Linked DNA regions of Homo sapiens. The protein of the gene in region 4 interacts with the protein of the main gene of each other region in a pairwise test. Each region holds a gene or a part of one and is shown on either strand. Other genes may lie near its edges.

Region 1 (3,500 bases), on a different chromosome or scaffold from region 4:
CATGCTTATTGCTGCTGGGTTTGTTATGTAGTTATTGTGAATTCACATTTAGGAATATAGGGTTTTTAATTCTTTGATTTTAGATACTTGTATCTTTTTTCTTTTATATTTAAAACCTTGGTTCCTGATGATATCCCTTCTTAGAAACCCTGTCTACCTTTGGCCTTCAGCCCACCATGCTGTGGTTTTCCTAACTTGCTGCCTGCACTTTTCAGATTCCTTTCATGGATCTTAAATATCATCTGTAAATAAGATCTATGTGTCAATAATTACCAAACTTTTATCTTTAGTCTTGACATCTACCCTGAACACCTAGCTTTGACTAACTCCTAGCTTTGGCATCTCCACTTGGAAATCCAAAAAGTGTTTCAAACTGAACATGTCTATGAAAGACTTATTTTTTTCTCTCTATCCATGCTATCCATCAGGTTTTCCATTTCCATAAGGGTGACTCTTGTACTCTGGTTCCTATATATTATACCGACAGAGCAGCCCAGAGTGCTTCTTAACCAGTGTAAGGCCTGTTATGTCCCACCCTCACTCTTTGTCCTTCAGTGGCTTCCCAGCACACTTAGAATAAAATCTGAAGTCTTAGGCCGGGCTTGGTGGCTCATGCCTGCAATCCCAGCACTTTGGGAGGATGAGGGGGCAGATCACTTGAGGTCAGGAGTTGATGAGACCAGCCTGGCCAACATGGTGAAACCCTGTCTCTACCAAAAAATACAAAAATTAACTGGGTGTGGTGTTGTGCACCTGTAGTCCCAGCTACTCGGGAGGCTGAGATAGGAGAATCACTTGAACCCGGGAGGCAGAGGTTACAGCGAGCCAAGATCATACCACTGCACTCCAGCCTGGGTGACAGAACGAGACTCTCAAAAAAAAATTAAAAAAAAAAAATATGTGAAGTCTTGAATAAAACCCAAGATCTTTACCATGGCCCCTGAACAGGGCAGAGTATCCATTCTTCAGACACTCTTCATAGAATACCATGGTGAGCTGGCATATTTATTATACAATACAGAAACAATTTTACTGGCAGAAAACACATTAAACCGTCTAAACTCTGAATACAGTTGTCCTCATAAAAAATGTTCAACATACTATTTTGAGGTTTTCCATTAATAGTTCTTATAATCTTTGTCCCATTATGTGTTAATCCAACAAAGGATATCCAATAACAAACACCAAAGTTTAAGAAAAATGTGCTAGGCGCGGTGGCTCACACCTGTAATCCCAGCACTTTGGGAGGCCGAGGTGGGCAGATCACCTGAGGTCAGGAGTTCGAGACCAGCCCAGCCAACATGGTGAAACCCTGCCTCTCCTAAAAATACAAACATTAACTGGGTGTGGTGGTGGGTGCCTGTAATCCCAGCTACTCAGGAGGCTGAGGCAGGAGAATCGCTTGAACCTCCTGGGAGGCAGAGGTTGCAGTGAGCTAATATTGCACCACTGCACTCCAGCCTGGGTGACAGAGTGAGACTCCATCTCAAATTAAAAAAAAAAAAAAATTAATGATAGAGAAACTTAAATCAGTTAGATTGTTTTAGGTATAGCCCATCCTTGGTTTTTGTGTGTAGCATCTAGCTTGGGGAAACCCTGGATTTCTGGAATCATATTTAGACACAGTCACACTAGACTAATGTAATTCTTTTGGGATGCAAACCACACGTTTGACACCTTAAATAGCTTTTAGGTATTTGGCTTCCCAGCCCCTATTTTTAGTTACAAGGGGTGTACATGTGTGGGTCAGGGTGGGGGTAGCTCTTTCCGCAGATGATTAGTTTTAGCCATGTTACTAGTTATTGCACACATTATCTGTGTCCTCACAGCAGCCCTGTGAGTAAGTGTATTAGGGTTCTCTAGAGGGACAGAACTAATAAGGTAGATGTATATATGAAGGGTAATGTATTAAGGAGTATCGACTCGTATGATCACAAGGTGAAGTCCCACAATAGGCTCTCTGCAGGCTGAGGAACCAGGAAGCCAGTCCAAGTCCCAAAACCTCAAAAGTAGGGAAGCTGACAGTGCAGCCTTCAGTCTGTGGCAAAAGGCCTGAGAGCCCCTGGCAAACCACTGGTGTAAGTTCAAGAGTCCAAAAGATGAAGAACTTGGAGTCTGATGTTTGAGGGCAGGAAGCATCCAGCATGGGAGAAAGATGAAGGCTCAGCAAGTCTAGTACTTCCACACTCTTATTTCTGCCTGCTTTATTCTAGCTGAGCTGGCAGCTGATTAGATGGTGACCACCCAGTTTGAGGGTGGGTCTACCTCTCCCAGTTCACTGGCTTAAATGTTAATCTCCTTTGGCAACACCCTCGCAGACACACCCAGAAACAATAATTTGTAGCCTTCAATCCAATCAAGTTGATAATATTAACCATCACAGGAAGGTACTAGTATCATATGTTTAACAGTAGAAACCAAGACAAATGCAGCTAGGAAGTGGGAGAACTGGGATCAGATGCAGGCAGTCTGATTCTAAATCAGTTGCTGTTACCCACTCTGACAACAGTAAGTGAGTAGCCTGCTCAGTCAAGTACTATATTAGTAGGGCCCTTTACAGACATATTTATTTCTCACAGTCACTCAATGAGACGGCTCTTCCAGTCTTACAATGGAGAAAGTGAGGCTCAGAGACTTTAAGTAACTTACCTTAGACGACTTTACTAGTAAGTATAAGAATCATTATTTGGACTAAAGTCTTTCTGAATCCTCAGCTTGTATTTTTTTCCAGTGTTCTGTGCTGCCTTTTTATCTACTAGTGTTTTACATCAATTTTGAATCTCTTTACTAACTGGTTAGGTTGATTTTTGCCTTTTTTTTTTAGGTTATTCTATATTTGTCGTTAAGGGTGATCTGCCAGATTGCGAAGCTGACCAACTCCTGCAGATGATTAGGGTCCAACAGATGCATCGACCAAAACTTATTGGAGAAGAATTAGCACAACTAAAAGAGCAAAGGTAAAAATGAGGCCTGCAGTATGGAATATATGGTAGTATTTCATTATGAGAATTAAATTTTCATGCTTAGATTGAATATGTGGTCCTTGTGTTGTTGGCGACTCTATTTTGGACCTTATATTTTAGTGAAGTTTATTAGTTTAAACTTGAATCAACTCTTTGAAATACTTAAATATATTAACTTAGTTAGCTGGTATGGTATATTCCTAGCACTTCGGGAGGCTGAGGCAGGCTGATTGCTTCAACCCAGGAGTTCGAGACCAGCCTGGGCAACATGGCAAAACCTCATCTCTACAAATAGTACAAAAATTAGCCAGATGTGGTGGTGTATGCCTATAGTCCCAGCTACTTGGGAGGCAGAGGAAGAAGGATCACCTGAAACTGGGGAGGTAGAGACTACAGTGAGCCATAATCACACTACCGCACTCCAGCCTGGTCGAGAGAGTCAGACCCTGTCTCAAAAAAAAAAAAAAAAAGAAACGGAAAAAAAAAACTTAGTTGGATTCAAATTGCAACACAATCATTATATTACTAGAGCTTATT
Region 2 (3,500 bases), on a different chromosome or scaffold from region 4:
CACCACTGAAGCAAATTCCAAAACCACTATCAAGAGGCAAAGGCTACCAGAAAAGCTCTATTTCCTTAAAAAGTATTTGGTTGTAACAGAAGTTAAGATTTGGCTTTAAGACATAAAAAGCCCAAAAGAGTACCTCTGTGGACTATTTTTTCAGGCTAAGGCTACCGGGAGATTTAAGTTCATTCTCCATTAAGGAAATTAAAGAATAGTGCTTGGTATCATTGAGACAGAAGCAATTTGGGTGAGTACTGCTCTGTGGAACAGGGAAAGTATGGGAACAAGCTGCCCTTTTCCCAACAGTTTAGCAGATTCAGGACTCCTACCAGTCTCTGCTGCTCCAAAAGAAGATCTGCTTCTTCCTTCTCCTTTTTGTATAAGATCTCCATTTCCTGTAGCCTAGAAGTAAAAAAAAAAAAAAAAATTCAAGAATGCTATTAGTATTACATGTTTAAAAGAAGAAACAGTCATATGGGCTGCGTAACTGTGCATTACCTTTTCTCCATCTCTTGTTTCATATCAATTCCTTGTTTTTCCAGAAGCTCCCTCTGGGCAAATGTCCAGTCCACAGGCTCAGAGGGGGTCTCAGCAGAAGGAGTCTTCTCTCGCTCAGCTCGTGCTTGTTCCGGGTGGTTAAAGCGGAAAACATGGTTTTTACCCATGATGATACGGTTTCCTAGCACAAAACAGAAAAATAGGGTTAAGAAATAATTTTTTTAATATATAGTATCTATTTAACAACCTCACCCCTCCCTAATGTGAAAAGACAGCTTTCAGAGCTGTTGTTTTTACAAGAACAAAAATCCTAATGCTGACTATTACTTCAGCCTTTAAACAGCCAAAAATTAGAGTTGTCACAGAAGCCATGTGCACATTGCTGAAGATGGCAAACCTCTCCCAGTCTCACCTGAGCGCAGCTGAACAGGCTGGGACACCCTCTTGCCATTTACGTAGGTTTCTGAGCGCTCACAGGGCTCTAAGGTCACGATAACTAAGAGGAACAAACACAAACTAATGTTATCATTACAAACTATTGGAATCAAATAATGGAAAGCAGTTGCTTATCAGGATTTGCAGTAAGTAGAATAAATCCCTGCAATCAATCAAGTGGCTGAAGTTGTCTATACAGTAGTTCATTTTGGGGTACCAGAACTAGCCCCAATAGAAGAGGCTATCTGTGGCCATGGCTAACACAAGAACATTTAACTCTATTTGATAAACCTAAGAAGATGATAGGAAATATTAGTTTCAGGGATCTCTGACGGTTCAGTCAATAAAACTCAGAACCATCAGAAATTGTAAGGATGAGATATAGGTAATAACCAGAAACTAAAGACTGAGAAGCTAATATTTTGATAAGGGAATGAGTGACTTATATAACAGAAAAAAACCATTAAATTGTTGTTTTGTTAATAACCCAGGCAAAAATCAAGACTGACTTTTTCTTCCCTTTTAGATAAAAATAAATTCTGCTGGGTTGACTTAATGTCCTTCAAATCTCCTATTACCCAGGATATCTGCTATTTTCTTACTTTTCTATTAAATAATTAACATTCCAGACCAAGCCTAATTGCCTATGTCCTTCTCAGTTCTTGGCAGTAAAAAAGGGCTTCTTTTGTCCAAGCTATTTTCATGTAAAGCAGCCTTGTCCATCTCTGCATTCATAAGCAGCCCAGGTCTCTCCATTTTTCAGAATTAGATTGTATAAGAAAGTACTACTGATAGACAGAGAATACAAAGTCTTAAGGATTTCTCATAATATAAAATGAAAATGTTGTTGCTGAAGCTCCAGCCAGGAATGCTCACCTTCCCCGCTGTTGCTTCTCTCACTCCGGAAGATACAATGCTCTTCTTTAATGTGAGCCCCGCTCAGCACTATGTCCTGGCGCCGCTCAGCATCTGCTTGGCCAACCCTGAACACAAGAGAAAGTGTTTCCCAGGGAAATTCAGACACAGAAAGCACTACAAACAATGAACCTCTTTATTCCAAAGAATATCCTTTGGTACGTACAAAAAAGGTATTGCCTTGTTGCATCAGAAGCTTTCAACTATGAATTCTATCCTCACATATGATCAACCTCTCTACATCAGAATAAGAAACAAGGAGCACTGATATACCAATGTAACTCATACAGTATTATAAAGACATGAGTCAAATAAAATCCCTAAGGAATGTATATTTGTTAAAGGAAAAAAAAATTATTTAGGGTCTTCAGAGAAAAACTACATAGTAACTGGCTCCAGTGGCAAAAACACATTATTTGGAAAGAGAGCATAGTTTGTAACTATTTCAGACAAAAAATACAGCAAATCATTACGTTAATTTTTTCAACCCCTTCCCTTTAGTTATTCAATTATCTAAGAGGGGGAAAACACACGAAGTGACCAAAACAGGAAATAAATATACCTTGTAATTCCATCTTTGATGTAATAAAGTAGGCACTCAGACATTAGTGGGTCTTCATTGAGGTTAACAAGATGTGGGGTCTGAAAAAGATTACAGATGATCAATTTGGAGCAGGGCACCATGAGAGAGCTGTGGTAACAACAGGGGCCTACAAGAGGCCAGGCTTCTCCAACTCTCCACAGAGCCTAGAGAGGGATTTCTTTTTATCCCTAGTTGCGGTTCCATAATAAAGAGAAAACACTCTCTTCAGGCCTCACCAAACGGAACCAAGTGCATTCTATTTTATTTTAATTAATTAATTAATTTGAGACAGAGTCTCGCTCTGTCTAGAGTACAGCGGCATGATTTTGACTCACTGCAACCTCTGCCTTCCAGGTTCAAGTGATTCTCCTGCCTCAGCCTCTCAAGTAGCTGGGATTACAGGTGTTCGCCACCACGCCTGGCTAATTTTTCTATTTTTAGTGGAGGCAGGGTTTCACCATGTTGGCCAGGCTGGTCTCGAACTACTGACCTCAACTGACCCACCCTCCTTGGCCTCCCAAAGTGTTGGGACTATAGGAGTGAGCCACTGTGCCTGGCATTCCATTTTAAAACATGAGTTCTGGGATAAAAAAACAAGACCTAATTTTTGATAAGGTCAAAGCACAAGGAAAAAATGACAGGCCAATTCTCTGAACGGAATAATTATAATTTTTGTAAATGCCTGGGTAAAAATCTCAAGAAATATTTACTTTTATTAAAATGTCCCCATACCCCCCCACCACTTCCCACTATAATTTTTATCAGTTCTTCTGATCCCAGTTATTAATTTGTCTTTACCTTAAAAGATTTTAATTTATTAGTCTTTACCTTAAAGAAAAAAGTAAAATTACTGATATTCGATAAGATAAACATCTTCTAACAATCCTCTTCATCTAACTCTAATATTTCTAAAATCTTTTTAAAAAACCAACCTTCTTTAGTGAAAATAACCCACTGGAATCCAAAAATAAGTCACATGGTCTTGAGGCCAAAATCTACTCAAGAGAGTGCCAGCAAATGTGGAAGAATGAAAGAAGAGTCAGATGAGGGGGTAGGAAAAGGAACTATAAAAGAT
Region 3 (3,500 bases), on a different chromosome or scaffold from region 4:
AGGAAAGAGCATCAGCTGGCAGCTGCAAGCCACCTGGGGTCCAGTTGGCCCTGAAACTTCCAGGTCACATCACCTGGGAAAGCCAGAACGTCACAGGCCTGGACCCCAGTTTCCGACATGTCGAATGAAGATGGTCACAGCCCTGATCTCACAGGGTGGTCATAAGGGTGAGCCTGGCACACGGCAAATACTCAACAAATGCTGGCCGTTATTGTCATTTGTGTTATTAAGGACAACCTCTGCTGCTGCAGGCTTTGGGAAACCTCACGTAAACATGATTCCTGGGCCAGATTTTGATGCTGGACTTTCCAAGTGCCGGCAAAGTCCCAAGGGAACATTTGAGTTTGACACGACTGTTTCCAGGACTACCTCTTGCCTGAATGGCTAAAATTCCACTCTGGAAACCATCCCATCCAATTCCACCTCTCCACAAGTCATTCCAGAGTCAAGGATGTCTTTCTAGCAAAGTCTCACCTCTGCAGATCAACTGCTCCCACGGGGGCTGAGGGCCTGGCTCTGTGCTAACCGTGTGTGTTATATGTGTGGCATGTGCATGAGACACTGGGGACAGATGGAAGCCAGAGTGAAGATCTCTGGTGGGTGCCAATTTGGGCATCAAGGGGGCCACAGCTGTGCCCTCCCTGGGGCCCCTTCCTGCTCACATTCTGCAGTGAGGGTTCAGTAGAAGGATCTGACTAGAGGGGCCCAGGGGTGTCAACTCGAAGGGAAATAGACGATCTCACCATGCAAAGATCAGAAACAACCCAAAAGTTCAACAGTCCTCACATCAGCTATCTGGGTTAGGACTGAAGTTCCCGTTCTGACTAAGAGGGGACCATGTCTCAGGGAGCAGAGTAACAGCTAGATGGGACCTAAGATCGCATCTGGGCGATGGAGCGCTGGGCCCTTCCTTCAGCCCTAGGCTAGCTTCCCACTCTGGCAACATGGGCACTGCCATGTCCAAGGAGGACCGTCCAACTGCCACACAGTGACTTCCCAGGGGATGCCCACCAGCACTGCTGGTTCTCGGAGGAAGTGCCATGTTCCAGGAGGCCTTTTCCTACAGCGGCCATGGATTAAAGAGAACGCCAGTGACTTGGAACCAAGGATGCTGGGCACATCCCATGCTCAGAGGCACCTGGAAGAGGGGACTGCCCTAGGCTCAGGGTTACCTTGGGGATCGACTTCCTTGGCCAGCTTGAGGGCGTCGGAGTTGGCCAGGTCCATGTTGGCGGGCGTGACAGCCAGAATGAGGCTGCTCTCCCGGCTGATGAACTGCAGGATCATGTCCTTGATCTGGTACTCGATGTCTGGAGGCTGGTCGCCCACAGGCACCTTGGTGATACCCGGGAGGTCGATGAGGGTCAAGTTCAACACTGGGAGGGAAACCAGAAGGAAAGGCATTCAGAGCCAGGAGAGGGGAGGCACAAACAGGCCCGCAGCCACCCAGCTGACTACCAAAGTTCCTGCGCGGGGCTCAGACTTGAGGATGTCGCCTGACACTCTGCCTGAACCACACCTTTGATCCAGTAACTCCCCTTCTAGGATCCCATCCTACAGATACCTTCTACCTACTCCATTTCAATGGCACAGTTCTAAATCAGGACAGTTCAGACTGGAATAGACCTAAATGACTGAATAAATTTCAGCCCATCCATTCAGCCAATACCAAAGAACCATTACAGACAAACAGATGAGGCTGGGTGCGGTGGCTCACATCTGCAATCCCAGCACTTTGGGAGGCCGAGGTGGGTGGATCACTTGAGGCCAGGAGTTCTAGACCAGCCTAGCCAACATGGCAAAACCCCATCTGTACTAAGTATACAAAAATTAGCTGGGCGTGGTAGCACACACTTGTACTCCCAGCTACTCTGGAGGCTGAGGCATGAGAAACACTTGAACCCAGAAGGTGGAGGTTGCAGTGAGCTGAGATCATACCACTGCACTCCAGCCTGGGCGACAGAGCAAGACTGTCTCAAAAAAACAAAAACAAAAGACAAATGGATGAGGCCAGGCGCGGTGACTCATGCCTGTCATCCCAGCACTTTGGGAGGCCATGATGGGTAGATCACTTGAGCTCAGGAGTTCGAAACCAGCCTGGGCAAGATGGCGAAACCCTACCTCTACCAAAAATATAAAAAATTAGCCTGGCATGATGGTGTGCATCTGTTGTCCTAACTACTCAGGAGACTAAGGCGGGAGGATCGCCTGAGCCCAGGAGAAGAAGTGAGCCAAGATCTCACCACTGTACTCCAGCTTGGCCAACAGTGTTAAACCCTGTCTCAAAAAAAAAAAAAAATAAATATATAATAAAGAAACATTCTGAGAGGCATACAAAAAAAAAAAAAAAGCATAGGCCAACGCAGTGGCTCACACCTGTAATGCCAGCACTTTGGGAGGCCAAGGCAGGCGATCACCTGAGGTCGGGAGTTCGAGACCAGCCTGACCAACACGGACAAACCCCGTCTCTACTAAAAATACAAAATTAGCCGGGTGAGGTGGCGCATGCCTGTAATCCCAGCTACTCAGGGGGCTGAGGCAGGAGAATCACTTGAACCCGGGAGGTGGAGGTTGCGGTAAGCCAAGATTGCACCATTGCACTCCAGCCTGGGCAATAAGAGTGAAACTCCATCTCAAAAAAAGCATAAGTGATTTTTATGTTATGCTAACAATTTAAGGAAAAGGAGTGATAAACACATACACAACATATACATAGATACAATCACAATTGCTTACATGTTTTTTGCTTACACATTTTTTTTAAGATAGAGGGTCTTGCTATGTTACCCAGGTGAAGTGCAGTAGCTATTCACAGATGTGATCATAGCTCACTGCAACCTCGACTTCCTGGGCCCAAGTGACCCTCCTGACTCAGCCTTTCAGGCAGCTTGAATGACAGGTGTGTGAAACCACACCCAGCTCATGTTTGCATTGTCATCTGAAGAACCTAAAATATGTGTGCAAAACTGGTTGACAAGGTAGGTTTTTGCGATATACCTTTCTGTAATTTTTGAATTCTGAGCCACATGCAGGTGTCATTTATTGAAAAACAAATTTAAAACTTATCGCAAGGAACCCATCATGGTAGCAATCTGTGCCTCTGGGCCAGAGGATGTCTATGGCCCCGGGCTGCTGTTTGAATGCAGAGTTTTAAAATCAGGATATTTGGCTGGGCAAGGTGGCTAAAACCTGTAATCCCAGCACTTTGGGAGGGGGATGCAGGCGATCACCTGAGGTTAGGAGTTCGAGACCAGCCTGGCCAACATGGTGAAACCCCATCTCTACTAAAAATACAAAAAAGTAGCTGAATGGGCTGGGCGTGGTGGCTCACGCCTGTAATCCTAGCACTTTGGGAGTCTGAGGTGGGTGGATTGCCTGAGCTCAGGAGTTCGAGACCAGCCTGTGCAACATGGTGAAACCCCGTCTCTACTAAAAATAAAAAAAATAAAAAATAAAAAAAAAATTAGCCAGGCAGGGTGGTACACACCTGTAATCCCAGC
Region 4 (4,257 bases):
CTGGGCTGGAGACAGGGGAAATGGAAATCCCAAAGGGGAATTCCTGTCCCCCAATGCTAGCTATGCCCTCTACCCCCACTGTCCTGCACCAGGGCCAGAACCTCAGCCCACGGACTTCTACCATCCTCCTTTCTCCAGCCCCAGGGTACCAGAGGGCCTGTGGGAAATCCACCCACACTCCTCCAGGCCATCCCCAGGATTCCGGGGACTCACCAGCCTTGATCAGAGGATCCCCGTTCCTGTATCCTCCAGGCACCGCCTCCTAGCCTGGAGACCAAGCAGAACCCTCTGCCTCCCTCCCCTTACTTCCTCACCCCCTCCAGCTCTTCCTCTCCTTTCCTCTCACTGAGGTCTCATCACCCTTCCCCTTTCCTGCCCACCCCCAACTCCCGCTCGGGGACACAAAGATCCCATTGATTTCTGTCCCAACAGCACCTGCTAAGACTGAGCTCTGCCCAGCTCCCAATACGGAGTGGTGAGGATTGAGGACAGCAGAGCCCTATGGATCCCAAAGGCCACACTCACCCTCCATATCCCACCTCCTCCTCGGGGACTCTACCAACCCTTGCTTTGGGGAGCAGTGCTTTTCCCTAGGAAAGGGGGTGTACAGCCGGACAACAGGCCAATGCCCCCGACTCTTCTCCCTGCACAATGCTCCTGCTCCTGTCCCTCTATTTCTACCTAACTCCCCTGCCCAATGGCGGGAGGCCCCAGACACTGCAGGCATGGTGGGGGCCAGGAACCTCGTTGGCTGGAGCATGTTTCCTGGTGATCCTGAGGCAGCGGGTGAGTGAGAACCTGGCGGGGGTCCCTATCACTGGGGCTGGCTGCTGGAGGCTGGGCTGGAGTGGGCACCATGTTGACGCCAAACATTTGCATATGCACTGGGCAGTGGCAACGAGGATGAAACATACACGCATGCACACACAATGCTGGGAGCAAACTGTGGACTAGGGACAAGCATCTCGAGCGCCATGAATACTAGATACCCTGTGACTATGGGTGAATGGAGCCCTGACAGACAGGCAGTGTACAAGACACGCCCACCCCCTCACATACCTGACTGTGGGAGGCGTGCATGGCAGAGCAGCCCAAGCTCACACCCCTCTCCCGGAGAGGGTGCTTGTGTTTGTGCTCACACGTAGGTGACAGATGGCGCCAGCAGTCTCCAAATGGGGAGCAGCGGTTGGGATAGATGGGGGTGGGGGTGTCATGAGAAGGGATGGCATCCACAGTGGGACCCTGTCCTTGGCAGCTAAGCGAGAGCTGGGAGCTAGACATGGAGATGAGTAGCTCTCTGGGTGTGGGTGTGCAGGTGTGCATGTGAGTGTAGTGACAGGGACAGTGAGTGAGAGAGGGAGTGTGCAGGAAACTGTGTCCCCCAGCAGTGCGTGTGCGTGTGTGCGTGTGCATGTGTGCATGCACCCGTGCTGGGGCAGCAGTGAGGGTGAGTTATGCACATAAGAGTGAACCAGTGATTCCCAGTGTAAGAGCCAGAGCTGGGCATGGGAGCCGCTAGAACAGGAGACAGAGGGGGACTGGACCCCAGGAGGGCTGGAGGGCAGAATGAAAGAGGGATGTGTGAGGGAGTCTGTGAGGCAGGCATGTGAGAGACACACAGAGATCCAGAAGAGACACTGGCACCCAGTGTCCTGAAGACCGGGTCTCTCCAGCCTGCCCACCAGGCCAGCTCCCCAGGAGGCCACCCGGGGTCCTTCCCTAGATGGAGCCCCCCAAACCTCCCCTCCCTATCTCCTTCGTTTGGTGGGAAGAATCCAGTAGCCTCAGAAGAAAAAGGGAGCAAGAGAAAAGTGAGAGTCAGTTGGTCTGGCCTTGGGATGGTGCGTGCGTTCCCTGCAAGCCAGCCAGCTCCAGGACACCTGGGCCCATGCCTAGGAACCCCCACCCCAACTCCCAGACCTGGGCACTGCAGCAGCAGCAAAACCAAGAAGAGGAGCAGCAGGCGCCCCAGGGTAAGCCCCTATGAGCGGCCACTGCTCCATGGCTGGGAAGCCAGAGGGAGACGCCAGGCTTGGGGAAACACGAGGCCAGCCTCTGGTGGTGGAATGAAGGGAAGCCCTGTTGAGGATGCCCCTGTACACCACTGCCACCACTCCTCCCCACTCCCCAGCCTCCGGCCATCCAAGGCCAGGCAGCCCAGCTGGCAGAACTCACCACAGAGAAGTTGCTGGCGGAGCAGTGATGCCCACTGAAGTTGCAGCTCTTAAGCATGTCGGCGAGCTGGTGGCCAGTGCGGTTGAGGATGTCTACCATGTCAGGCTCTGGGTAGCGCAGGCCAGCCGCACGGTGCCCATCCCGGTCTTTGGGGGGCAGCCCTGTCAGATTGGCCAGGTGGAAGATGTCGGCATCGCTGAGTGCCGAATGCCGGAAGCGGTTGATATTGCAGAGGGTGACAGCCGGGAAGCCCGCCACTGGGGCTGGGGCAGCGGGGTCCATTGCCACCAGGTGAGGCCGGGTCAGGTAGCCCCGGGCCAGGCCAGCCGCCTGGTACAGGAAGGCAGCCAGCGAGGTGAGTAGGGCCAGTGCCCACAGGGTTCTGCGCAGTCCGTGGGGGCCTGGGCCACAGGCCCGGCCCAGTCCATGCAGGGTGCTGGTGCTGGCAAAGGTGGCCAGGTCTCGGGGGGCTGCTCCAGGGGCAACAGCCCCGAGGAGGCTCTGCTCATCCCCTGCCTCCTTCTCCTTGGGTTTCGCATCCTCCTCAGCAAATTTGATTTTGCACACAATCTCGATCGGCATCTGTCCCCGGCTGCTGGGACTGGCCAGAGCCTCCCTGCCCTGTCCCTCCCTAGCCAGCAGCCCTGGTGCCCTCCCGAGTGGCAGTGGTGGCAGCGGCTGCTCTTCTAAACTCAGGGCAAGCGGGAAGAGGACAGGGACAGGGTGGGGGCCCGAGGTGGGGGAGTCACTCCCACTCCCAGCAGCTCCGCAGCCCTGGTGCTGCCTCTGCCGCTGCTGCCTCTGCTGCCGCTTGTCTCTCTCCTCGATCGTCTCCTTGTGGCTTCCCTTATCAGCACCAGCACAGCTGTCAGCCCCTGCGTGTGTCCCTGCGAGCGAGCGAGTGAGCGAGGGAGCGAGCGCTGCTCCGCCACGCCGCGCAGCCCCAGCCGCTCCGCTCAGCATGTGCTCCGGAGCCCTCCCCACGCTTAATAATTCAGGACATGTCAACAGCGTTTCACCGGCAGCACGGGCGTCAGGAGCCAGGCCAGGGGAGGGGGCAGTCCCCAGCCCAGGACAGAGATCCCAAGACTGGGGCTATCCCCCAAACTCCTGCTGCACCCTAGCCGCTCACTGGGTCCCCAGATCTCCCCACTTCCTGGCCACCCAGGGAAGGGTGCCGTGCCCAGGGTCCTCAGCTCATTCTTTGCCACTTTCCTGGCCCACACCCCATGAAGGGTCAGCCAACTCTATCCCCCCACCTCCTGGCCTCTGAGACTCCTGACTCCAGCACCCAGCCACCACCTGATCCCACTACCCGACTCACAGCAGCTTCCAGAAACTCCTTGAGAGAGCCACTTGTTTGAATGACGGAGGGAGGGGGGCAGAGGAGGGCAGGCTAGACAGACCAGGGGACAACTGTGACTTCAAGATTCTCAGCTTCCCTGGAGCTTTGCTCCAGACTTCAACACCCACCATGCCCCTGCCCCCTCTGGGAGGCTGGCTGCCCTCACCCTCATTTTGCCCCCAACCCCAATCTCAGTCATTCATATGTCTGGGACAGACAGCACCCTGGCCAGCTTGCATATCTGTGGCCACTTTGCTTCCCCAAATGTTCCCCAAATCCCTTGCCACAACCAGGCTTCGGGGGAGGGCTGTTGGGTAAGCAAGCCAGGGAGCAAAGGGGAGGTGTGCTTCCGGGGTGCTCTATATGTAGGGGGACAGGGCATGCAATGGAGGGAGAGGAAGAGCCCCAGTGGGGGCGTGGAAGGGAGCAGGAAGATGTGCTGGGCGTCAATGGGAGCGAATGCTCTCCTAAAGAAAGGGGTTTGAGGGGTGCCTGGCAGAGTGGGGCAGGAGAGCCCTAAGGGGTCTGCTGTGTTCTCGTGGAGGGGAACAGGCATGTGGGCCATCATCATAGGTGGGGGTGGGAGCCTCAGTTGACTGGCCAGGAGGGGATGCATCCATGCCCCCAGGGTGGGGGTGGCAAGAATCAGTGCTTGTGCTCTGGGGCCCCATCCGACAGCATGTGCCCTCACGGGGGAGGAAGCCCTTGTCCCCGGGAGGAAAGGGGGGCTGATTAAT
Region 5 (3,500 bases), on a different chromosome or scaffold from region 4:
CATGCTCAGCTAATTTTTATATTTTTAGTAGAGACGAGTTTTCACTATGTTGGCCAGGATGGTCTCGATCTCCTGACTTCGTGATCTGCCTGCCTCGGCCTCCCAAAGTGCTGGGCTCACCGCGCCTGGCCAACAGTAGTTCTTTCCCTTCCCTTGCTGAGTAGTATTCCATTGCATGGCTGCACCGTGAACCATGGTTTGTTCATCCATTCAGCTGCTGATGCTTGGAAATGTTAAATGCATTTGAGCTCATGAGTGATGGGATCAAATCGGCTCTTCAAGGACAGTAATGTCACGTTCTGGTGCAGGACGCGTTAGAGGTATAGGCATCTAGAAGCAAAGAAACCAGAGAGATGACTATTAACGCGTTAGGTCTAAGGTGAAAAGACCCTGTGGGAGCCAAAGTGGGAGGATCGCTTGAGCCCAGGAGTTCAGGACCAGCCTGGGCAACACGGTGAGGTCTCATTTCTAAAAATAATAATAATAATAATTAGCTGGGCATGGTGGCGCATGCATGTAGTCCCAGCTATTCCAGAGGCTGAGGCAGGAGGATTACTTGAGCCCAGGAATTCGAGGCTGCAGTGGGCTATGTTGGTGCCACTGCACTCCAGCCTGGGTGACAGAGCAAGTTCCCGTATCAAAAGAAAAAGAAAAGATCCTGGGCTGGGCGCAGTGGCTCATGCCTGTAATCCTAGCACTTAGGGAGGCTGAGGTGGGCGGATCACTTGAGGTCAGGAGTTCGAGACCAGCCTGACCAACATGGAGCAACCCTGTCTCTACTAAAAATACAAAATCAGCCTGGTGTGGTGGCGTGCGCCTGTAGTCCCAGCTACTCAGGAGGCTGAGGCAGGAGAATAGCTTGAACCCAGGAGGTGGAGTTTGCAGTGAGCTGAGATCGCGCCACTGCATTCCAGCCTGGGCAACAAAGCAAGACTCCATCTCAAAAAAAAAAAAAAAAGAAAAGAAAAGATCCTGGAATCCCATGATGCTGCGAATGGAAAGAGCCCCCATTGTTAAAGCAGGGAGAATGAGTTGTAGTTCGATAGGAAATGAGGAACATGGTTTTAGGAACTCCTAACTCGTCTGGACACAGTGGCTCACGCCTATAATCTTAACACTTTGGGAGGCCGTGGCGGGTGGATCACTTGAGGTCAGGAGTTTGAGACCAGCATGGCCAAGATAGTGAAGCCCTATTTCTACTAAAAATACAAAAATTAGCCAGGCATGGTGGTGTGTGCCTGTACTCCCAGCTATTCGGGAGGCTGAGGTAGGAGAATTGCCTGAACCTGGGAGATGGAGGTTGCAGTGAGCTGAGATCGCACCACTGCACTCCAGCCTGGGCGACAGAGCAAGACTCCATCTCAGTAATAACAATAATAATAATAATAGAACGTCTCAGATTTCTTGCACCAATAATTAGTGTCAAATGAAAATATGTGAGTGTCTGGATCCTGATATAAAACCATTTAATGTGAAACTCATCAGTGAAGCCAAGGTTTAAAGTTTGGTGCATGCAACTGCAGTGGGCTTTGGCTGACAGAAGGCAAAGGGAAAAGTTTGCAGGGCTTCCAGAGCGTGTGGAGTCTCAGATACCCTGCTCAGATGCAGAGTGGGAGGTATGATTAGCTTAGTGTGGGTCACACATTCACCCTGGCCAGGAGAGAAGGGCTCTGGGTCAGAGTCTCAGCACTGTCTAAGAGGGATGTCGTCATTCCCAGAAGGAACTGGGGATGCTCTTAGGAAGAGGAATGGGCTGCTTCCCTTACCCTGACTCCTAAGGTGCTTCTCATGTCAATTTCTTTAATAAAGACATAACCGCATTACCTAAAGTAGCAACTAATTTGGGAAATAGTTACAAACAAACACAGTGTTTTAATTTACTATTCTTTCATTATTCTGGATGTAACATAAGTGCCTTTGAGCTCAGAAAAATTGAGCATTTTCTCCCCCCTATTTTGGGGAAATAGCTTCTCAGAGACACTCCTGAGTAAGAGATGAAGGATTTATTTAAAGTTCTGGGCGAGGAGGAGAACACACTGGGAACACTCACAGTTTCAGGCTGGAAATGCCCAAGAGATAGGTGGTTGCCTGCATTAACCACAAAAGGCAAAGCTAAGCTAGATCTTCATGTATAATGCAGTCATGAAGGGCAGGTGGAAATTCCACACTGTTCATTTCCTCCAAAAAATCAGTGATTTTAATATCAACATGTGACTTCTTTTTTTTTATTACCATTATTTTTCGAGACAGAGTCTTGCTCTGTTGTCCAGGCTGGAGGGCAGTGGTGTGATCATGGCTCACTGGAACCTCCCCCTCCCGGCTCAATCGATCCTCCCACCTCAGCCTCCTGAGTAGCTGGGACCACAGGCTGGCACCACCACGCCCAGCTAATTTTTGCAGTTTTTGTAGAGATGGGGTTTTGCCATGTTGCCCAGGCTGATCTCAAACTCCTGAGCATAAGCAATTCTCCCAACTTGGCCTCCCAAAGAGATGGGATTACAGGCATGAACCACCATGCCCGGCCAAAATGTGACTCTTAAAAACCAGATATCTGAGAGGCTTTTGTATACTGAAAAAAATGTAAGCATTTAATTTAGACATTTATTTCTCTTGGGAGAGAGAAATGCTTTCTTTCCCTGATGTTTGCTTTCCCTGATGAACCATTGACAATGTTTTTAATTATGGTACTCCCTCAAATGTAGACTTCACTTGCCTCTTGTTCTAGGGGGGAGTTAACAAAATGTTCCACGGGATCCAGGACTACGAGGAAAACAAGGCCCGGGTGCACCTGGTGATGGAGAAGGGCGACACTGTTTTCTTCCATCCTTTGCTCATCCACGGATCTGGTCAGAATAAAACCCAGGGATTCCGGAAGGTAAGCATTCACATTGCTGCACCTGCTGCAGAAGTGTGGGTTAGAAACAAAAATTGTATTCAATTCATTGAATTCAAATTAATTGAATAAAATTTTAATTAAATTGCATTAACATTTTAAAGATTTGTGGCTTTTAACCAACCTGGACTTTAGTCCAGTTTATTTACCAGGAAATATATTTGCTTACCTTGGGCTTTCTGTGCTCTTATCAGTAAGAAGCCAGGTGACCTCAGGATCCTAACCTTGTCAATATTGATTATGGGCCGGGCGCGGTGGCTCATGCCTATAATCCCAGCACTTTGGGAGGCCAAGGCGGGTGGATCACGAGGTCAGGAGATCGAGACTATCCTGGCTAACACAGTGAAACCCCATCTCTACTAAAAATACAAAAAATTAGCTGGGCGAGGTGGCGGGCGCCTGTAGTCCCAGCTACTCGGGAGGCTGAGGCAGGAGAATGGCGTGAACCCCAGGGGGTGGAGTCTGCAGTGAGCCGAGATCGCGCCACTGCACTCCAGCCTGGGCGACAGCGAGACTCCGTCTCAAAAAAAAAAAAAAAAATTGATTATGAAAGCCAGGTGCAGTGGCTCATGCCTGTAATTCCAGCACTTCCGGAGGCTGAGGCGGG
Region 6 (3,500 bases), on a different chromosome or scaffold from region 4:
AAGCAATCTTGTAATCTCCAGGGTGAAAGATTCTTTAGAAGTTGGCATTTTTAAATTTTTTTTCTTTTGAGACGGAGTTTTGCTCTTGTTGCCCAGGCTGGAGTGCAATGGCACCATCTCAACTCATTGCAACCTCTACCTCCCGGGTTGAAGTGATTCTCTTGCCTCAGCCTCCTGAGTAGCTGGGATTACAGGCATGTGCCAGCACGCCCGGCAAATTTCTGTATTTTGAATAGAGATGGGGTTTCACCATGTTGGCCAGGCTGGTCATGAACTCCTGACCTCACATGATCTGCCCACCTTGGCCTCCCAAAGTGCTGGAATTACAGGCTTGTAATACAGGAAGTGAGCTATTTTTATTGGCTCAAAACTGCATTGCAAATAAAGCAGCTTTGCTGTCCCCAGGATAGACCTACCTAAAGATCTGTCCAGTATTATTTTATTGGCTACCAGAGGAACATAGTAAATAACTCCCAAGTGTCTTAAGCTTTACATAAAGAGGGACAGCTCTCGGCTGGGTGTGGTAGCTCACACCTGTAATCCCAGCACTTTGGGAGGCCGAGGCAGGTGGATCACATGAGGTCAGGAGTTTGAGACCAGCCTGGCCAACGTGGTGAAACCCATTTCTACTAAAAATACAAAAAGTAGCTGGGCGTGGTGATGTGCATCTGTAATCCAAGCTACTCAGGAGGCTGAGGCAGGAGAATCACTTGAACCCGGGAGGTAGAGGTTGCAGTGAACCGATATCACACCATCACACTCCAGCCTGGGTGACAAGAGCAAAACTCCATTCCCCACCCCCACCCCCCAACAAAGAGGGACAGCTCTGTATTCACTGGCAGCATTTCTCTAATTGTGTGCCAAGTTGTCTCAGTGGCTGAAAATTCACTGTTTCCCAAACCTCTGGTCCCAGCAGAACTCCCAGGATCCTAAACCAGAGAGCCAATATTTTTTTTTTTTTGAGACGGAGTCTCCCTCTGTCACCCAGGCTGGAGTGCAGTGGCACGATCTTGGCTCACTGCAAGCCCCGCCTCCCAGGTTCATGCTATTCTCCTGCCTCAGCCTCTGGAGTAGCTGGGACTACAGACGCCTGCCACCACGCCCAACTAATTTTTGTATTTTTAGTAGAGACGGGGTTTCACCGTGTTATCCAGGATGGTCTGGATCTCCTGACCTCACGATCCGCCCGCCTCAGCCTCCCAAAGTGCTGGGATTACAGGAATGAGCCACTGCGCCCGGCCAGAGAGCCAAATGTTTAACTTAGCAGACATATTCTGGCCTGAAACCTGAGCCATGAAAAGCCCTTACAACAATGCATTCAATATCCTTTTCAATGCTTTATATCATACCCGGAGCCATTATTGTGTTGAAACCAGGACAGCTCTGGCTTCTCCTCATATACTAAAGACTGTATGCCAAGCTAGAAACTAGCTAATCTAGAAAATATGGATTTGGGGATCAAGGGGAAAAAGAACCCTTGGAGTGACAGCATGTGGATTCTTCTTCCCAGAGATTTGATCACCTCTCAGCTATTTGTATCAGGCTGCAAGTTTCAAGTATTAATGGAGCTTGTTTTTGTTTTTCAGGCCCAACTGGAAGGCATTATTGCACCAAAGAAGTGATAATTTCCACATGATTAATTTCCAACAAGACACTTGGGAGTTATTTACTGTGTTCCTCTGGCAGCCAATAAAATCATCATAAGCCCTTTGTAATAAAAAGCTAGTTTCCTGAGTGAACAAGCCATAACCTCCCCTAAACACCACCTAGGTATTTGTTAGAAGTCACACTATTACTCCAATGTCATCAGACACCTAAGGTCTGCCAGCCAGGCTCCTGGCTGGGCAATGGAAGATGGTGTGGCCCTGTTAGTCTCCGTGTGTGGCTTACTAGCCAGCCTTGGGAACTGCCAACTCAAATTCTAAGAAAGCCACTGCTTTCTCATCATCACTCTATACCAATACTTATTTCTGGCCAAATGAATCTGCTTCTCTGCCCCTCAAACTTTTAGTTCACAATTCATCTTCTACCTTAACTTGGGCTTCTTGGGCCTCTGGCCTTCCTTACTTAATGTCTTCTTTTCCCTACTCTAATGCATTTCTAACTCACTTTGGAGCTTTGGTTTTCTAATGTATTATCCCCACTTGCCAGTCAACTGGACCCCTTCCTCCTCGGTTTCAGACTGCCTACATTAGGAAACAATGGCAGTCAAACCCATGGCTTTGGAGAAAGTAAATGTTTGCCAGAAAGGAATACTAGTCACAGTGGCCTTTGTGAGTTGTCTGCAACTCAGCTCTTCCCCCAGCACAGATCTGTTCCCCTTATCCTGCAGAAAATCAAGCCCTGACTCTGCACTCCCCGAAGTAGTGATGTTAATTAACAACTGAAGAGGTAACTAAATCTCACATGCAGGTCTAATGACTAATAATTGGAGTACGGCTGCTAGACAACTGCATTTTAGTATTTCTCTTCCATTCTCCTGGTTTTGTAGACCCAGAAGATTGAATGAGTGACATAAATCTTTAGTTCGGGGCAAGCCAGGGTGGGCTAGGGTGGTAAGCTGGAGGACTTCATCCTTCAGTTAGGCTGCACAAGTAACATTACCTAAAAGGCACTAACATGCTCAGGTTCCCCAGAAAGAGGCGTAAGAAGGGCCTCTCCTTAGCAGAGCTTCCACCTGCCATCCGTCTTGGGTTCAGTGAGCTTCAAGGCTCACAATGGAAGCACTGTCATTTCCCCAGAAAAGCTGTGTTCCCTATGCTGAACACACCATACACATTCTCATCTGGAATCTAAGGAGCAGCTTTTACCCTGATCCAGTATCCTGAGGAATTTTAAGCCTCCACTCAAATGACCTGCCTGTGTTGTCATTTCCATGGGAAAGAACTCTTTCCACGAGATCTGCTAGTTCCAGGCCTCTAAGACAGGAACGTATGTGCCATAAGTGGGTCTACTTCACAGACTCAATGAGGCAGAAATTATTGTAGTTTTCTCCTATTTCTTCTGCACCCAACTTTCTCCTTGTATTTCAAAGGCCAGGCCATGTACACTAACGTCCTTGAAATTTGCAGTTCTGTATGCTTCTATTCCAAATCATTCATTACCAATAAAAACGAAATACCACCCTTTCCATTTTATAGACCTCATCCCCTATTTCTGTCAGACAGTTATATGACAGGGTGACTGTGGAACCTCTTAGTTCATCCAAAGTCTACCTGAAGTGCTAGACTTTCAGACTCTTATCACTGAAATCCTTAAGGTTGAGGAGGCTTTATTTCCCTAGCACTGGTGAAGGGCTTCAACTGTCAAACCTCAGAACAAATGCATTAGGGCCTTAGAAATGTCAATGGGGCAGGAAGAAAACACAATTTCTAACTGCCTGTTTTTGTATAATTTAATAAAAACCTTTTAAACATTACTGCTTTTGTCTGAATTTTTTGCGTTTGTGTTTCTGTCCCTCTGAGTCATTGGTCTTCTTTTTGTTCCTGTTCCTATTTTTC
Region 7 (3,500 bases), on a different chromosome or scaffold from region 4:
CGGGCCTTGAAGACCCTTGCTTACGGGATTAAGTGGTGACGGGCAGGCAAAAAAGGGCAGAAGGAGAATAGTTTCCTGGCCCCTTAGTGAGTGAAGGAGAATTTCAAGCCTTCCTTCAGTCCTCTGAAAGACCTGGGGCTCTCCACAGTCCCATACTCGGGAAGGGTGGCATGATCAGGAAGGATGGTTCTGCCTGCATCTGCCCTACCTGCACCCTCGACTCGGGCAAGTTGATTTTCAGTGCCACCTCCTCTCGCATGAAGATGTCTGGGTACCGGGTCTTGGCAAACAGTGCTTCCAGCACATCTAGCTGCGCCCGAGTGAACGTCGTCCTCTCCCGGCGCTGTTTCCGGGGGGTGGCTGCGGGACAAGAAGCCCAGGGCCCTTTAGGGTGGGGGAGCAGTTTCTCAGTCATAGGCGTTTCCGCGGGTTCTCCGACGCCCCTGCCCTCCACCCCGCAGCAGTCCCCCGTTCCTCACAGCCCTTCAGCCGGGAGCCTACCAATGCTCTCCCCACCGTCTCCCCAGCCTTGCTCCCCGGGGACCCAGGACACACGCTGCTTCTTTCCCTACTCTTCTTGGTGTTGAGATTGCTCCAATCAGAGCATCACTTGGAAAGTTAACAAATGAAACATTTTTTAAAAGACACACAAAAAAGTTCTCCAAGATCAACCCCCAAACCACAACACAAAAAGGCTATTCCAAGAAGTCAAAGGATCTCCGAGGACAGACTGGCAGCTCGAATTGATGGGGGAAATCTGGATCCTGTTCCCATGGTTTTTAGCACACCATGGGCCTTTGTTCCTCCATCTTTAAAATGGGGACATAGTTCATACTCCTGGGAGGATTTTTAAACATATCTGATTGGAAAGGAAAGCACCCGCATTTGGAGGAAGTCACGCCTCTTGGGATTAAAGCAGGCTCTGGAGGTCATAGGGGAAGGCCTGGGCATGGAGGGAACAACTGCGAAGCCCGAGAGTGCTAAGGACTTACGGAGGGAAAACTCAGCTTCTCCAAGAGGACACTTCTGAGGAATTGGTCATTGAGATATGGGTAGGGGTCTTTTGCCCAAATGACAAGGACAGTAACCTTCCTCATCCCACTCTGATGCCAATCCTTATTTACTCGAATTAAGAATAAAGTGATGTGATTGTAACGGTTGCAGACCCACCTACTCACTTTTCCCAACCCCTGTTCTCTGCTTGGTCAGTAAATGCCCTGGGACTGCTTCCTCAGAAGGCAAACCTAGAGGAGACCAAGCCTGAAGCTGGGTGGGGACAGTGTGACTGCCAACCCCCGTGTTCCATGGGAACAGGGTGTTGCATCCCCGGAGGGTGGGCATGGGGAAGAGGGGTGCGGGAGTGCAGCAGGGCTCACTTACCCGGGTAGCCCACGGAGGGGTGCAGCAAGTCCATACCCGAAGTGGTCAGACTCAGCCCATTGACTGCGTAAGGCGGTTGCTTAAGATAAGACATCATGCTAAGGTTGTTTGGAGGTGCAAAGTCGGCCCAAATCGGGGGTACCCAGCTGGAAGATCTTGATGCGCCCGGGGTGGACAGGTTCAGAGTCCTTGGTGGGTGGGTTTGGAGCAGTGGAACTAAGGGCAAAGCAAACAAACAAACAGAGGGGCTGGTTTACTGCTTCGGAGGCAGCAGCTCTTCCACGTTCCAGCACTAACTTAAAAAGAGCACGGACTAGGCGAGGCAGAGGCTTTTAAAGGACTTGCAGACACTCCCCCCACCCCCATCCCCACCCCCACCCCCAGCTGCTCTGGAACTAGAGGGGATGGAAGGAGACCAGATAAACCTGTCTTCCCCACCCCCACCCTAAACTTAAAAAAAAAAAAAAAGTACCCGAAGAAAGCAATTACAATCTGCCTTCCCCAAGAACAAAAACCCGTGCCTTCAAATGCACACATTGCATTCCTATCCCTACATTTGCATAGGACTCATTGGCTGGCACTAGCTAATTGTCTCAAACAAAACTTGATTGGGGCCATTTGCAGAGACAAAGAACTCTTTGGCTAAATAAATAATGCTGATAACAAAGCCCATTGGTGAGAAACAAAGAAACAATTCAAGAAATCTACCTCTCCCCAGACTGTTGCCTTTCCATGGCAGAGATTTTAATTATCTTAGCTTTTTACCACTTTCAACTGCTGCGAACCTAAAATGTCAGTGCGTTTAACATCTAAAATACCAACTCACTAAACCACAAACTTGGAAAAACCGCTCAACCACTATTATTCCACATTTGAAGTCATTTCCGGTAATCATTTTCACCTAATTAGTAGTCTGGGTAATTAGATTTCGAGGTAAGTAACAGATTTATTAGGGTTTTGGAGAATCTTGATTATATGTGTCTAAGGAACGAAAGCTAAACAAACAAGTATTTAACTTTTAATAGACACCCATCAAATATTTAAGCATATTCCAAAAAAGTCTTCAAGATTGGCACAGGGCTTGCCAGAAATTGTGAAGTAAAGTTAGAATCCCACCAATCAGATAATGACGGGACCCCACATTTGTAGTGCAAGCTGCTTCCATGTTGATTTTGATGTGTGGAGGCTGCAGATCCTGCGGGAGGCAAATTTTCAGACATTTGGGTCCTCGGCAGCTGCAGCAGAGTTTCCTGTTAACTCTAACTGCCTTTTGCACATTTTAGTTTTGAAGAAAGTAGATACACAAACACCCAAAGTTGTGAAACTAGTAGAATTTCTCCCTACCTTTCAAGTTTCCTACAATCCTATAAGAAAAAGAGCTCAAGGGGGAAAAGAAAGGAAGAAAAAGAAAAGTTATTTACTTTCTTCAGCTGAGCTCCCCGCCTCCACCCCAGCAAAGAGATTCAAAGTAGATGTTAATATAGACTGGCAGTTTGCAAGTCTGGCCTTTATTTTCCTAAAATGTGGCACTTATATGCAAGGATCTCTACTTTGAAACTTTGACACCATGAGAGATTGCTTCAAAATGGCGGATACAAGATAAAGGTCTCACTGACTTTAAAGGACTCCGGGTTTTCATATTTACGTTGCTTAAGACAGCAAGGCACAAAAGTCCATAAATGAAACTTAGTAACTGCAACTTCTTTCTGATTTAAATTCAGAGCACAAAAGTCATGCTTTTCTACCCTAAGATCTAACTTAATATAATTTTATAAATGTCTTTCTTGGAGGAGTTTGTATTATCCTCAGTACAACTAATTTAGTTGCCCCTACAATACAGACTTTATGTTTTTGTATTGTCTTTTCTTTTCAAAATGCTGTTCTTTGGAGGCTGCGAAAATAAACAAAAATCTCCAGCTTAGAGGCTGTTTAAACACATATGCGACAGCTTTAAAATACAGTTGTATATGTGTTTAAACAGCCTCTAAACTGGAGATTGGAGATTTTTTGTTTAATCGTACTACCTTGCAAAATTCTGAACTACAGTGCTATAGAGAATCGTAAAATCATATCAGATGTACCCTTGAGAAATATGGAAATGTTCTTACATGTAGAGCTCT

What was found.
Region 1: the proteins of ASIC4 (region 4) and ATXN3 interact in binary tests that used the Homo sapiens proteins (3 or more experiments, as listed by UniProt).
Region 2: the proteins of ASIC4 (region 4) and KIF1B interact in binary tests that used the Homo sapiens proteins (3 or more experiments, as listed by UniProt).
Region 3: the proteins of ASIC4 (region 4) and DNM2 interact in binary tests that used the Homo sapiens proteins (3 or more experiments, as listed by UniProt).
Region 5: the proteins of ASIC4 (region 4) and PHYH interact in binary tests that used the Homo sapiens proteins (3 or more experiments, as listed by UniProt).
Region 6: the proteins of ASIC4 (region 4) and DNALI1 interact in binary tests that used the Homo sapiens proteins (3 or more experiments, as listed by UniProt).
Region 7: the proteins of ASIC4 (region 4) and OTX2 interact in binary tests that used the Homo sapiens proteins (3 or more experiments, as listed by UniProt).

Annotation. Positions count from the first base shown.
Region 1 is NC_000014.9:92,082,583-92,086,082, reverse strand, and holds part of ATXN3 (ataxin-3 reference isoform), read left to right. Parts: intron 1-2,579; exon of another isoform or gene 2,580-2,670; intron 2,671-2,824; coding exon 2,825-2,957; intron 2,958-3,500. UniProt on the Homo sapiens protein: Deubiquitinating enzyme involved in protein homeostasis maintenance, transcription, cytoskeleton regulation, myogenesis and degradation of misfolded chaperone substrates.
Region 2 is NC_000001.11:10,294,070-10,297,569, reverse strand, and holds part of KIF1B (kinesin-like protein KIF1B), read right to left. Parts: intron 2,485-3,500; coding exon 2,405-2,484; intron 1,911-2,404; coding exon 1,804-1,910; intron 989-1,803; coding exon 905-988; intron 674-904; coding exon 493-673; intron 397-492; coding exon 324-396; intron 1-323. UniProt on the Homo sapiens protein: Has a plus-end-directed microtubule motor activity and functions as a motor for transport of vesicles and organelles along microtubules.
Region 3 is NC_000019.10:10,773,579-10,777,078, reverse strand, and holds part of DNM2 (dynamin-2), read right to left. Parts: intron 1,377-3,500; coding exon 1,173-1,376; intron 1-1,172. UniProt on the Homo sapiens protein: Catalyzes the hydrolysis of GTP and utilizes this energy to mediate vesicle scission at plasma membrane during endocytosis and filament remodeling at many actin structures during organization of the actin cytoskeleton.
Region 4 is NC_000002.12:219,513,225-219,517,481, reverse strand, and holds the start of ASIC4 (acid-sensing ion channel 4), read right to left. Parts: upstream 2,758-4,257; coding exon 2,176-2,757; intron 787-2,175; exon of another isoform or gene 396-786; intron 278-395; exon of another isoform or gene 214-277; intron 1-213. UniProt on the Homo sapiens protein: Does not exhibit measurable stand-alone pH-gated sodium channel activity but may form pH-gated heterotrimeric sodium channels. Its activity could also depend on alternative gating mechanisms.
Region 5 is NC_000010.11:13,283,065-13,286,564, reverse strand, and holds part of PHYH (phytanoyl-CoA dioxygenase, peroxisomal isoform a precursor), read left to right. Parts: intron 1-2,725; coding exon 2,726-2,875; intron 2,876-3,500. UniProt on the Homo sapiens protein: Catalyzes the 2-hydroxylation of not only racemic phytanoyl-CoA and the isomers of 3-methylhexadecanoyl-CoA, but also a variety of other mono-branched 3-methylacyl-CoA esters (with a chain length of at least seven carbon atoms) and straight-chain acyl-CoA esters (with a chain length longer than four carbon atoms).
Region 6 is NC_000001.11:37,563,440-37,566,939, forward strand, and holds the end of DNALI1 (axonemal dynein light intermediate polypeptide 1), read left to right. Parts: intron 1-1,586; coding exon 1,587-1,622; 3' UTR 1,623-3,415; downstream 3,416-3,500. Other genes in the region: GNL2 (nucleolar GTP-binding protein 2), read right to left, coding at 3,416-3,500. UniProt on the Homo sapiens protein: Involved in sperm flagellum assembly.
Region 7 is NC_000014.9:56,803,980-56,807,479, forward strand, and holds part of OTX2 (homeobox protein OTX2), read right to left. Parts: intron 1,689-3,500; exon of another isoform or gene 1,597-1,688; 5' UTR 1,478-1,596; coding exon 1,381-1,477; intron 385-1,380; coding exon 209-384; intron 1-208. UniProt on the Homo sapiens protein: Transcription factor probably involved in the development of the brain and the sense organs. Can bind to the bicoid/BCD target sequence (BTS): 5'-TCTAATCCC-3'.